Regions from separate parts of the Homo sapiens genome. Here regions 1 and 2 are each reported to be linked to region 3. The links are microRNA targets in miRTarBase. Many come from high-throughput screens and were not tested one by one. Region 3 holds a microRNA gene; each other region holds the end of a gene's coding sequence.

Region 1 (3,000 bases), not on the chromosome of region 3:
TCAGGAAATATCACAGAGTTGAGCAAACAAATGAGCACATGCACAGTTAAATATAACAGATCTCATCTAGTACAGCAATACTGAGCCACATCTCTAAGGTGCAGGGAGGTGTGGGGACTTCGCATGGTTCCCTGCTGTACCTAGGGCTTAGAATAAGGCCTAGGACAAACATTTGCTGAATAAATGAATGCATAAAGGAATGAGTCACTTGCACAGCCCAGCACCTGACTTACAGTCCCTAACATCCCTCCTTAAATGGAAGTGGGAATATATCACCCAGGTAAGAGTACAGAACCCTTGGTCATGACCTGAGGCAGCTCTGAAGGTAGATCCAGGCATCAGAGACCAGAGCCTCAGGAACACCCATTTGGAGGTGCCAGGGACCTCATGAGGTTCACAGGTGACTTTTCATACCACTGTCAGAAGCCCAGCTACGCCCAGCTACGCCCAGCCAGGAAATGGCAGGCATCCCACCCAGGGGAGGCTGAGGACCAGATGACTTTGGCACTGCCCAGGATAGCCAAGTGAGGCTCCAAATCTTTCCCTTAAACACAGCCTGGAGTTGCCTGGGGCCTGCCATGAATACTATACTTCGGGTGGTGCTAGGGCAGGGCCTCACACCATAGATACTGAATACCCTGAGCCTTTGGGACAGGAGAGGTCTCTTAGGATGGCAGTGGCTCTCCATCTGATGAGCACACTGCCAACTTCATTGCCATCCTAATATTGATGCCCAGTCCTTCCTACTTACCTTCCACTTGCCACTCAGCTGTGCACCAGCGTGAAGTGTTCCAGACCAACCTTTGCTGAATAGGAACCTAAATTAGTGTAAGGTTCATGGGGAAAGCTCTCCTGTAGAGCCACGCTTGGGTGTGCGGGGGAAACGGGTAAAGGTAGCCATCAATACAGTCTGCTTCTAATCGCTGAGGGGACACTGACCCTCACCCACTATGCCCAGCATCTAGAACAGCAAAGTACAATGAGTGTTCAAGAAAGAGATCCCAAAGCCTAGCCCAGGAGCATTGGTGACAGTTTCCAAATATTACCCAGGGGTAATATTTCCTTTCAGAGTGCCCAGCGCAGCCCCAGAGAGTCCTGTGTTACCTCAAGTGCAAGTCCCGCCAGCAGTTTAGGGAAAATGAACCCCCTACACCAATCCCTGTGTGTGAGGTTTTAGAAGCTTCCACGGCAAAGAAGAGAGGAAACAATGAGCTTTATAAAGAACAATATTTATTTCCATTTACAGCATCAAATACCATAAATAAAGCTAAACATTGTTTGTTTTGCTGTGTGCAAAATACAGGGTTCCGTGTGGCACTGTAAATGATTACCAAAGGTCACAGACATGCGTTGTGATGAGATGGGGAGGCTAGCTAAAGAGGAGGCTGAGAGGGGAGGAGGGCACTCTTTGGTTGACATTCTATAAAGGGAGGGAGACTCTGTAAGAGAAGATAAGACAAGAGCAACGACTTTGTACTGGCCAGGATCTGCACAAATACAGTGAGCGTGCAGCATGCAGGGCCAGGCAGGCAGGCCCGGGGGTCAGGGTGGTCTGGGCCACATGCAGGACAGACGCCCACCGCAGCCTGAGACCGCGAGTGTTGCCTAGGACAGCTCCACGGTGCTTGGTGTGTTGTTTCTCGTTAAGAGTGTGTTGGTGATTATCCTGCTGCCCCAGGTACAAGAGTCAGCAGAAATGTGTGCTTTAAGCAGAGTCACAGGGGCCTGGGGCTGAACTGAGTCATTTCTCAAAGATATCCCTGCCTGGGATGATGATGGCTCTAATTGAAGCTCTGGCATCATCTGGGGCTTTATGAGCCAAGGGAGATAAGAAGAGCCACAGCAAAACCCTTGGGTCTACAGTGCAGGCTGCAACCAAGGCAGCATTTGCTAGAATATTTGTGATTATGTGTTCAACCTACAGAGCATGTGTCAAGCTTGGGATGAGGCCTGAGAGTAATTAAGTTTTTTAAATCCCTCCAAATAATCACCTATGGTTTTGATAAATGACATTAACAATCTTTACATTAGAGCCAATTTAAGAAGGCGCTGGTATGTATGAGCTTTTTGAGGCTGCTCAAAAAGTGTTCTTTTCAAAGGTGACAGAGGCCCCCTCATGGTATTGTTTCATGATCAAGGTCGACCCTCCCAAGAAAGTAGGTAGCTTCGCAGACGCAACTGGAGAAGCATGCACGCAGGCAGACCCAAGGGAGAGAGGAGAGGCGGGGCATGCACTTGGGGTAGACCAGGCTGCCAGCTCCATGGGAAATGAACACAGGCATGGGTCTCAAGCTGAACACCCCCCGCCATGCTGTTAGCCAACCATGCCACCAAATGAGTCCATCAGTATGCAAGACACTCACAGTTAGTGCAACCAGTACTGCTGGCGGAGAGGACGGGGTGCGGAAAGCGGGTTGGGGGTTAGTACCACTCTTTGAAAATTGGCAAGAAAACCAGTCACCTTAGAGCAGAAGTGTGTCAGCCAAGAAGTGGGTGTAGCACTGGAAGGCTGAAATGAACTGATGGCCATGGCGTAAGATTGGAAAGAGAGAGAAAGATAGAAAAGAGAGCTTAGTGTGGGGAAAAAAGGAAATGATTAACATCACGAGAAGGCACCGGAGTTGAAAATAAGGCCACGATTGAAAGAGGGAAACTTCCTCTGAAAGAGTCGCTGTTTGCTTAGGAGAGATGAACCTTTCTGGTTGTGACCAGCTACTTGTTTACGAGAGTGGATGCACACAGTTTGCATCTTGCTCCCTGATATCCTCTCTGCCCCCATTTTACTCTAGCGTCTCCCATTCATTCTTGAATATGTTGCGGAGGCCTAGAGGCATTCATCCTCGGGGGTCCACCCCTGGGTGTCGGTGCTGCCCACCAGAAAGGTTCAACATCTCAGAGCGTACAAACATCTCAGATTTCTGACAGGCACGCCCTGTCTCGCCACAGTAATTCAAACCAGTCTCCTTATGGCTGTACACGACAGTCAGAGATTCCGACTCG
Region 2 (3,323 bases), not on the chromosome of region 3:
AGTGACAGTGCATGCCAAGGCCTGTGGGGGCCCAGCGAGTGCTGACTGCTGGGCCAGGGAGTTCAGGGACAGCATCACACAGGGGGCTACTTGGGCTGGGTCTGGAAGGCTGAAGGAGAGTTTCCCCTCTGTGAGGAGGAGGGAGTTTCAGGCAGAAGGAGTGGTGCATGCACAGGCATGGAGGTCAGAGAGATGGGCCAGAGGAGGGAGGCAAGGGCCACATCACCAAGGGCCTTGAACTCTAGGCTAATTCCAGGATCCACAGAAGGCATCTGAGCAGTGGCCTGGCCAGATCTGCATTTTGGAAAGATCACTTGGGCCATGTGGATGAAGGGCTGGAGACTGGAGGCAGAGAAAATGAGGGCAATGATGTGAGAAATTTGAGTCCAGGAAAGAAATGACAGGTTGTTAGATATTAGCTCAAATGGAAGGGAGATCGAGCCAACTCATTTTACAGATAGGGAAACCCATGTCAGACAGGGTCCAGTGGCCTGTCCAAGGTCACGCAGCAAGTCAGTGCCTGGGGGAGCAGGGACTGAGGGCAAGGGAGGGACAAAGCCCCCACCCCAGGAAAGCTAAGTGGCTGGTCTCAAAGCCAGCAGAGGCCTCTGCAGGTAGCTGTGGTTTGTGTTTGAGCAGAATCAACAAGGTAAATACTAAACTTCCTCTTCAACCAGATGCAAAGCAAGAATGGACAGGAGGGCAGGGACGTGCACATCACACCTCAGCCCCAGAGGGCCCCAGAGGTGGTGACCAGCGGAGCCTAAGACCAGGAAGGAGGGAGGTGCGAGCACAGGACAAGGCATTAAGAGGGCCTTTAGGTGATGGTCAGAGGAAGGAATGTGGAGTAGGATCTGCTGGTACATGGTCGGGCTTTGTTTGTGCAAACCCCCTTTTAGGAACAGGCCCCCCTTTCTCAGAGACCTGCTCCCTCTCCTCCCTCTCCCTCTCCCCCATGGTTCCTGATGGGACTGCCAATCACAGTGCCCCAGCCTCCTTCCTGGGGCCAGCCAGAGCTCTTCCTTCCTTGGGGGTTTTCTAATTGGAATTCAAGAGAGAAAGTTTCTTCCCCTCTAGGGGCAATGCTGAGTGATCGAGCTGGGAGGAGGAAGCCTGGCAGGCCCAGGGGGAAGAGGCCTTAAAGAATGAAGCCGACACACATTCGAGAGAATGCCAGGAGAGGATGAAACATGCGGTGGCACTCCTGATCCCGGGTCCCATCACGAAGGCCAGCCGCACTTGCCCACTGCTGTCCTTGCGGCAGCGCGCTCCTGGGTGAACAAAGCTCCCAGGTGCCTAAGCTGGCTGGTATCGGATTCTGCCACTCCCAGCCACAAGTCCCAGTCACAAGCTGAGCTGTGGGAGCTTGGGAAAGTCATGTCCCCTCTCCAAGCCTCGATTTACTCATCTCCAAAATGGGGCAGTCACAATACCTACCTTGAAGAATCAAATGAGGTAGTGCTTGAGTGAACTCTGTGTACACTTAAGTGCTGGGGCTGCCCGAAGGGAGGGAGGCGGAGGAGTGAGTCGCAGGAGCTCCAAGGGTCTAGAAGCACAGTCCTGAGTGGACTCTGCCCGCACGGCTCCTCTGACCAGGTCTCACAGCAGGCAGGATTGGAATGAGACCAGAGCAAGCCTGTGCCATCAAGGCCTGCAAAACTCTGAAGAGGCCTCCGCCCCTCCTCCAGCACCCCTGGGCAGGCCATTATCTGTGATACCCCCTACCCCAGCAGCCAGTCACTTCTGTCACTCCCACCCAGGCTGCTGCAGCACCTAACCCTCCCTCAGCTCTCCAGGGACCTGTCTGTGTCTCCGAGTCCCTGGGAAGGGGCCCAGAGGTGCCCATGTTGCTAAATGACCAGGCAAGAAGGACCTGTGACCCTGCTAACCGTGCCTCTGCTCCAGCTGCTGCCTGACTCCAGAATATGTTTCCAGATGTAATCCTGTGCCCCCTCTTTCTGGGGGCCTGAAAACTGAGCAAGGATCCGCTCACTCAGGCATGTAATGAATGCAACTCAGTACAAGCCTCCAGCCCCTGGCACCAAGCCAGCCTGGCTCCCACACCCCACCCCAGCCCTGGCCCGGTCCAACACCTGCATCTCCACCACAACCCAGCATCTGCGGCTCCCCTGCAGCCATGGTCAAGTTCCAGGAAGCTGAGCTGAAGCCCCACCTCCATCAAGCGTGGGTTTGAAGTCCCAGCTCTGCCTCTGACTGTGGCCTTGAGCCGGGCACTGCCCATCTCTGGCCTCATTTTCCTATCCACAAAATGGGCAACCTAAAACCTTCCAACAGGGTTGTTGTGAGGGGCCAGGGGATATGTGTGTGAAGCTCCTAGCTTAGAGCACTGCATGAGACTGGTGCCACATGGTCACAGCTAACCCTTCAAGAGCTTATCCTGTCCCAGGTATTTGCTGAACACTTTACAAATAGGAATTTGTTTCATCCCTGTAACAACCCTGTGAGGTGGGCACTGTTACCATCCCCATTTCACAGATGTGAAACCAAGGTCACTAAGCTCTGTCTTGGCTCTAGCCCAGGAAGTCTGGCCTCTGTGCCCCAGTGAATGGCAGCCACGACCATCACAGCCACCAGGAAAAGCCAGCCATAAGAGGTCCCCTCCCACACTCCCAATCTGCTTCCCACAGCCCAGATCGGGGAAAGGATGAATCACCCAGAGAGTCAGGGACAAAGATGGGGTCAGAGCCTAGGCCGCCCCCTCCCAGGCAGGGCTGGACTGACCCCATCACATCATCTGATGAGATCAAGTGAGTTCAACCCAGGAGACAGAAACAAAGTCGGGGTCCCAGAGCTGGGCCTTTACCTGAGGGAAGCAAACAGCTCAGCAGCAAAATCCACAGAGTGAAGTTTATTCCCAACAAAGTTCCCCTCCCCCCTCCCCAGCCCGGGACAGGGACGGACAGGCTGGGCTGAAGATGGGGTTCCAGTGGCTGAGGGGCCTCTGAGAAACAAGGAAGGGCCCTGGGACCCCAGGCCAAGCCATGTCCGGCTCCCCCAGCCTGGCTGAGTCCACGGCGCCTCCCTGCCCAGCCCTCGGGAGAGGGGAGAGGGCGCTGGCTCCTGGGTAGTTCCAAAGTGGAGTGTGAAAATAGAGAGATATATATATTTATATGCAGTGGGCAGTCCAGCGTGGCACTCACACCTCTGTCTGGAAGTCACCATCCGGTGGTTCTGTGGGCTCCCAGGCTGCTGCCCGGTGCAGAGTCAGCCGTTCTCGGGGCTTGGGGGGCAGCGAGCCCAGTGTCATAGATTTGAAGGTGCTCCAGCTCTGATGGCGCCGATGTTGGGACAAGCTGGGGCGC
Region 3 (3,344 bases):
AGTGTAGGTCAGATTAAAGACTTCATTTCAGGCCCCTTGTACATCTTCTGTTTCACTCACCTGTTGAGGTGTATCACAGCTGAGCGTGATGAGGTCTCAACCCTAGAAAAATGATACCCACCTCTGCTTTCATGATACCTCAGGGTATCTCCAGTTATTACAGGTACCAATGTGATATTTCCAAATCAAAACTAATTTGTACACTAACATCATAATGTGTGTGTGAAGGCATGTTTTTAAACTTATTTTTTTTTTCTCCAGGTAGGACTCTTTTGTTTTTTCTTTTGTCTTTTTTTTTTTTTGAAACAAGTTCTCTCTTTGTTGCCCCAGGCTGGTCTTGAACTCCTGGGCTCAAGCAATCTTCTCATTTCGGCCTCTTTGGGATTACAGGCATGCACTGCTATTTTGTCTTTTTTTTTTTTTTTTGTAACAAATAATGTACCCTACCTTCAAAAAGTTTGATGACTACTGTTTTAATATGCCACTTGATAGAATTTCCCATTGTTTCTTGACTTTTTCCCTTGTCCTCTTTTCCCAATGTGAAGGCCTTCATCAAGTTTAGGATCCCAACAGATTGGGCTGGGTGGGGGTTGACAATGGGGTCAGATACTAAAGGGTCAGAATTTCTAAGCAGGCACTGTGAAGGTGTCCCACTATTATACAGAAATCTCGAGTCAAATGTCAACTCTCCTTTTCGCTCTGTACTGCCTCCCTCACACCCTCTTCCCTGGACTTGGGCAGAAAGAGGTAGATCTGATGTTCTGTGCTAGGGTTTCTTAAAGGGAAAAGCTCAATTTTTGGACAAAGTTAATAAAAAGGAGGATGCTAATGTACCCTCAGTTAAGGGCTCCCAGCAGGCAGATAAATGCCTTTCTGGAATGACGGGTGTAGGGATTAAGAGGAGCAGAGGAGAGGCCTTTGCTTTTTCTTACTTGCCACCAACAACTAAATTAAGCCTTGAATCTTGGTCTGTGCTGGCTCATTTCATATGTGTGCTGAGAAAATTCACACATATGAAGTGAGCCAGCACAGACCAAGATCCCTTTGGATCCCTTTGGAGCAGAAACATTTAGTGTCTTTGTATGTTCTCTGTGGGGAAGGCTGATAGCGCATTTCTCCATCATGAAGGTGTAGATATGAGCGGTAGTATTGCTGTTGCTGGTGGTGTGTGCACCCAAAGAATGTGTGTGGTGCACACTCCTGGCGTTTGCATTTTTCTAGGTGGGGTGTGCACCCTTGCATTCTTGTACACACTTTCTTACATACGCTCCTGGGAGTGGAGTGGGTGAAGCAGGATTCATTTTTGTTTTTAATTACTGAAGTCCTACACTCCTCCAAAAGGAGCAGCTTAGTGGAAACCAATAAAAATTGAAGCGGGGTGGTTGCCAAAACCCCAGCTCCCCGGAGAGCGCAGGTGGAGAGAAGACATCAGAGCCCCAGGCAAAGGCAGCAAGACTACACAGTTCCTCCAAAACTCCCCGCAAAAAGGGATCCTTCCCCCACCCCTCCAACCCCCCAGGTCGCTGCCCCTTTGATTAATGGTATGGAGCTCAAATAAATCATTTAGGGAAGCCCCTTATAGATTGCCCTCAGGCAGCCTCATTTTGTTTTGCCCAATTTCTAGCAACTTTCTGAAACGTCGATGTCATTGAAAAGGAACCAGTAGATCTCCAGTACTTGAACAAATTATCCTAGGGCCAGTACTGAGCCCTGTGGCTGTCCAGTTCTAGCAACCAGCCCCTTCCTCCATCCTCCCCGCTCCTACTGGCTTATTTTCAGGAATGGATAATGTTGTTTATTTGTTCAGCCAAATATTTGGTCTGGGGAATTTACCGTGAAATTCTGTGAATTGCATATACCTAGTTAACAAAATAGTCCTAATGCCACAAATGTTAGCATGGAAAACAAAGAGCTATGGCCAGCGTTAACTCTTTAAATTCTGTTTGAAAGCTTAGTCCTGAGACCCGGGGAGATTAAAAAAAAAATAAAAAAAATTGGATGTGTGTGATTTAGGTTTCGGCATTTACTATTTTTGCCTAATATTCAGTTCAGTACCTGACGGAAGTCGTAGGGTGATTCTCGGCGTTGCTTTTGGATCAAGCCTACCATTTCACCCCATTCATGTTTTTTTTTTTTTTTTTTCTCCAGAGTAATGTTCCTATTACTGAAAGAAAGATGGGGAGGGAAGCTCGCCCTTGAGGAGTTCGGCAAAGTCGTAACCACATCAGAGGAGCTGCTTGGTCGATCCCTACCCAACCCTTAAACTGGAACCGGCTTCCTAGGAGCTTAAAAAAAAAAAAAAAAGGTTGGGGGGGTGTGGAGTGGGACGCATCAAACATTCCCCTGCTTTCGTTGCATAATTCGCCCAGAACCTGCCAGGTGACCTGCTGACTTTGTTTTCTGTCTTGACCGTGCTTCGTTCCACACCCCCCTCGCCGCCGGGCAGCGCCACACTGAGAGGGCTCGGCGCGTCCGCGGCGCGGGCAGACCCCAGTAGTCACCCGGCCTTGGACTGGCGTCAAGATCCAGCCCCGCCGACCCCGCCTCCCGCCCGCTCTGGAGCTCCCAGGCCCGGCGGCGGCGGGGGCACCAGGGGGCGTCCTCCCTGCGGGGGACCAGGGGGACCGTGCACCTGGCGACGGCCCGCGGGAGCCGCGCGGCAGGCGGCCACCCCTCCCCATCCCCGCCGACCGCGGACTGCGGGTCCCCCAGCCCGGGCCCGAGAGCCGGCCCGCTCATCCGCCCTCGGGGACCCAGGCCTCAGGTGAAGCTCTGCAGACACAGACGGATCTGATTAGCGCTCGCTGGTCCTTGGGGCGGTCGCTCTGCAGATTTCATGCGAAATGGGGTCAAAAGGCCGCGCAGAAGCGTGGAGTCTGCAGGGGAAGGCTCCCCGGGGTGGAGGGGCTTAAGAGGGGTCGAGACCTTTAGGGGTTTTCTGTAGGGGGCAGAGAGCGGGAATTAGGGAGCGAGGCTCTCCTGCCTCCGAGCTCACAGTGGGCCTGCATATGGGGGTGACTCAATGGGAGCGGGGACGTGGGCGAGTGGGAAACAGGCCCGCTGGGTGAGGGTCGGACCTGCAGACTGGCCCTGAAGGCTGAGCCGCTGTCTTGGGCCCCTTGGGGACACGGAGAGCCCTGGGTCCCAGCTGAACTGCAGCCAGGGCCCCGCTCCCCAACAGTCGGGGGACGGAGGTGAACGGGAGAGGCCACGGGTGTGCAAGAGTGGAGCTGGACGATTGCTTTCAGAAATGAGATGCCAAGCCATGATACATAATGACAGCACCTCAGCTGACCTCCGCAGGGCCTCTGGACCGGGGACTCACCGTGCCCGCCCCCACTCCC

The links. The annotated mature microRNA hsa-miR-5580-5p reads UGCUGGCUCAUUUCAUAUGUGU and lies in region 3 at 973-994, shown strand. An mRNA with a match to its seed (bases 2 to 7 or 8) in the 3' UTR can be bound and repressed. Matches are read on the target gene's strand: a 7mer-m8 pairs with bases 2 to 8, a 7mer-A1 pairs with bases 2 to 7 and ends in A, and an 8mer does both.
Region 1: the mRNA of MICAL2 is a reported target of hsa-miR-5580-5p. The part of its 3' UTR that is shown has no 7-base or 8-base seed match.
Region 2: miRTarBase lists ADGRB2 as a target of hsa-miR-5580-5p. Seed matches in the 3' UTR shown: 7mer-m8 at 3,074-3,080.

The regions. Positions count from the first base shown.
Region 1 is chr11:12,261,999-12,264,998 of GRCh38, reverse strand. It overlaps MICAL2 (microtubule associated monooxygenase, calponin and LIM domain containing 2), which reads right to left. Exons shown (of 28, transcript NM_001282663.2): 27 at 2,462-2,519; 28 at 1,214-1,439. The coding sequence ends at 2,479. Among named protein-coding and RNA genes, the nearest start is that of MIR6124, 100 kb to the right of the region's middle.
Region 2 is chr1:31,724,263-31,727,585 of GRCh38, forward strand. It overlaps ADGRB2 (adhesion G protein-coupled receptor B2), which reads right to left. Exons shown (of 33, transcript NM_001364857.2): 33 at 2,855-3,323. The coding sequence ends at 3,158. Among named protein-coding and RNA genes, the nearest start is that of COL16A1, 22 kb to the left of the region's middle. RefSeq lists an enhancer at 1-47.
Region 3 is chr14:53,946,113-53,949,456 of GRCh38, reverse strand. It overlaps MIR5580 (microRNA 5580), which reads left to right and starts at 973; the gene lies at 973-1,030. RefSeq lists a silencer at 2,558-2,607 and enhancers at 2,578-3,108, 3,109-3,344.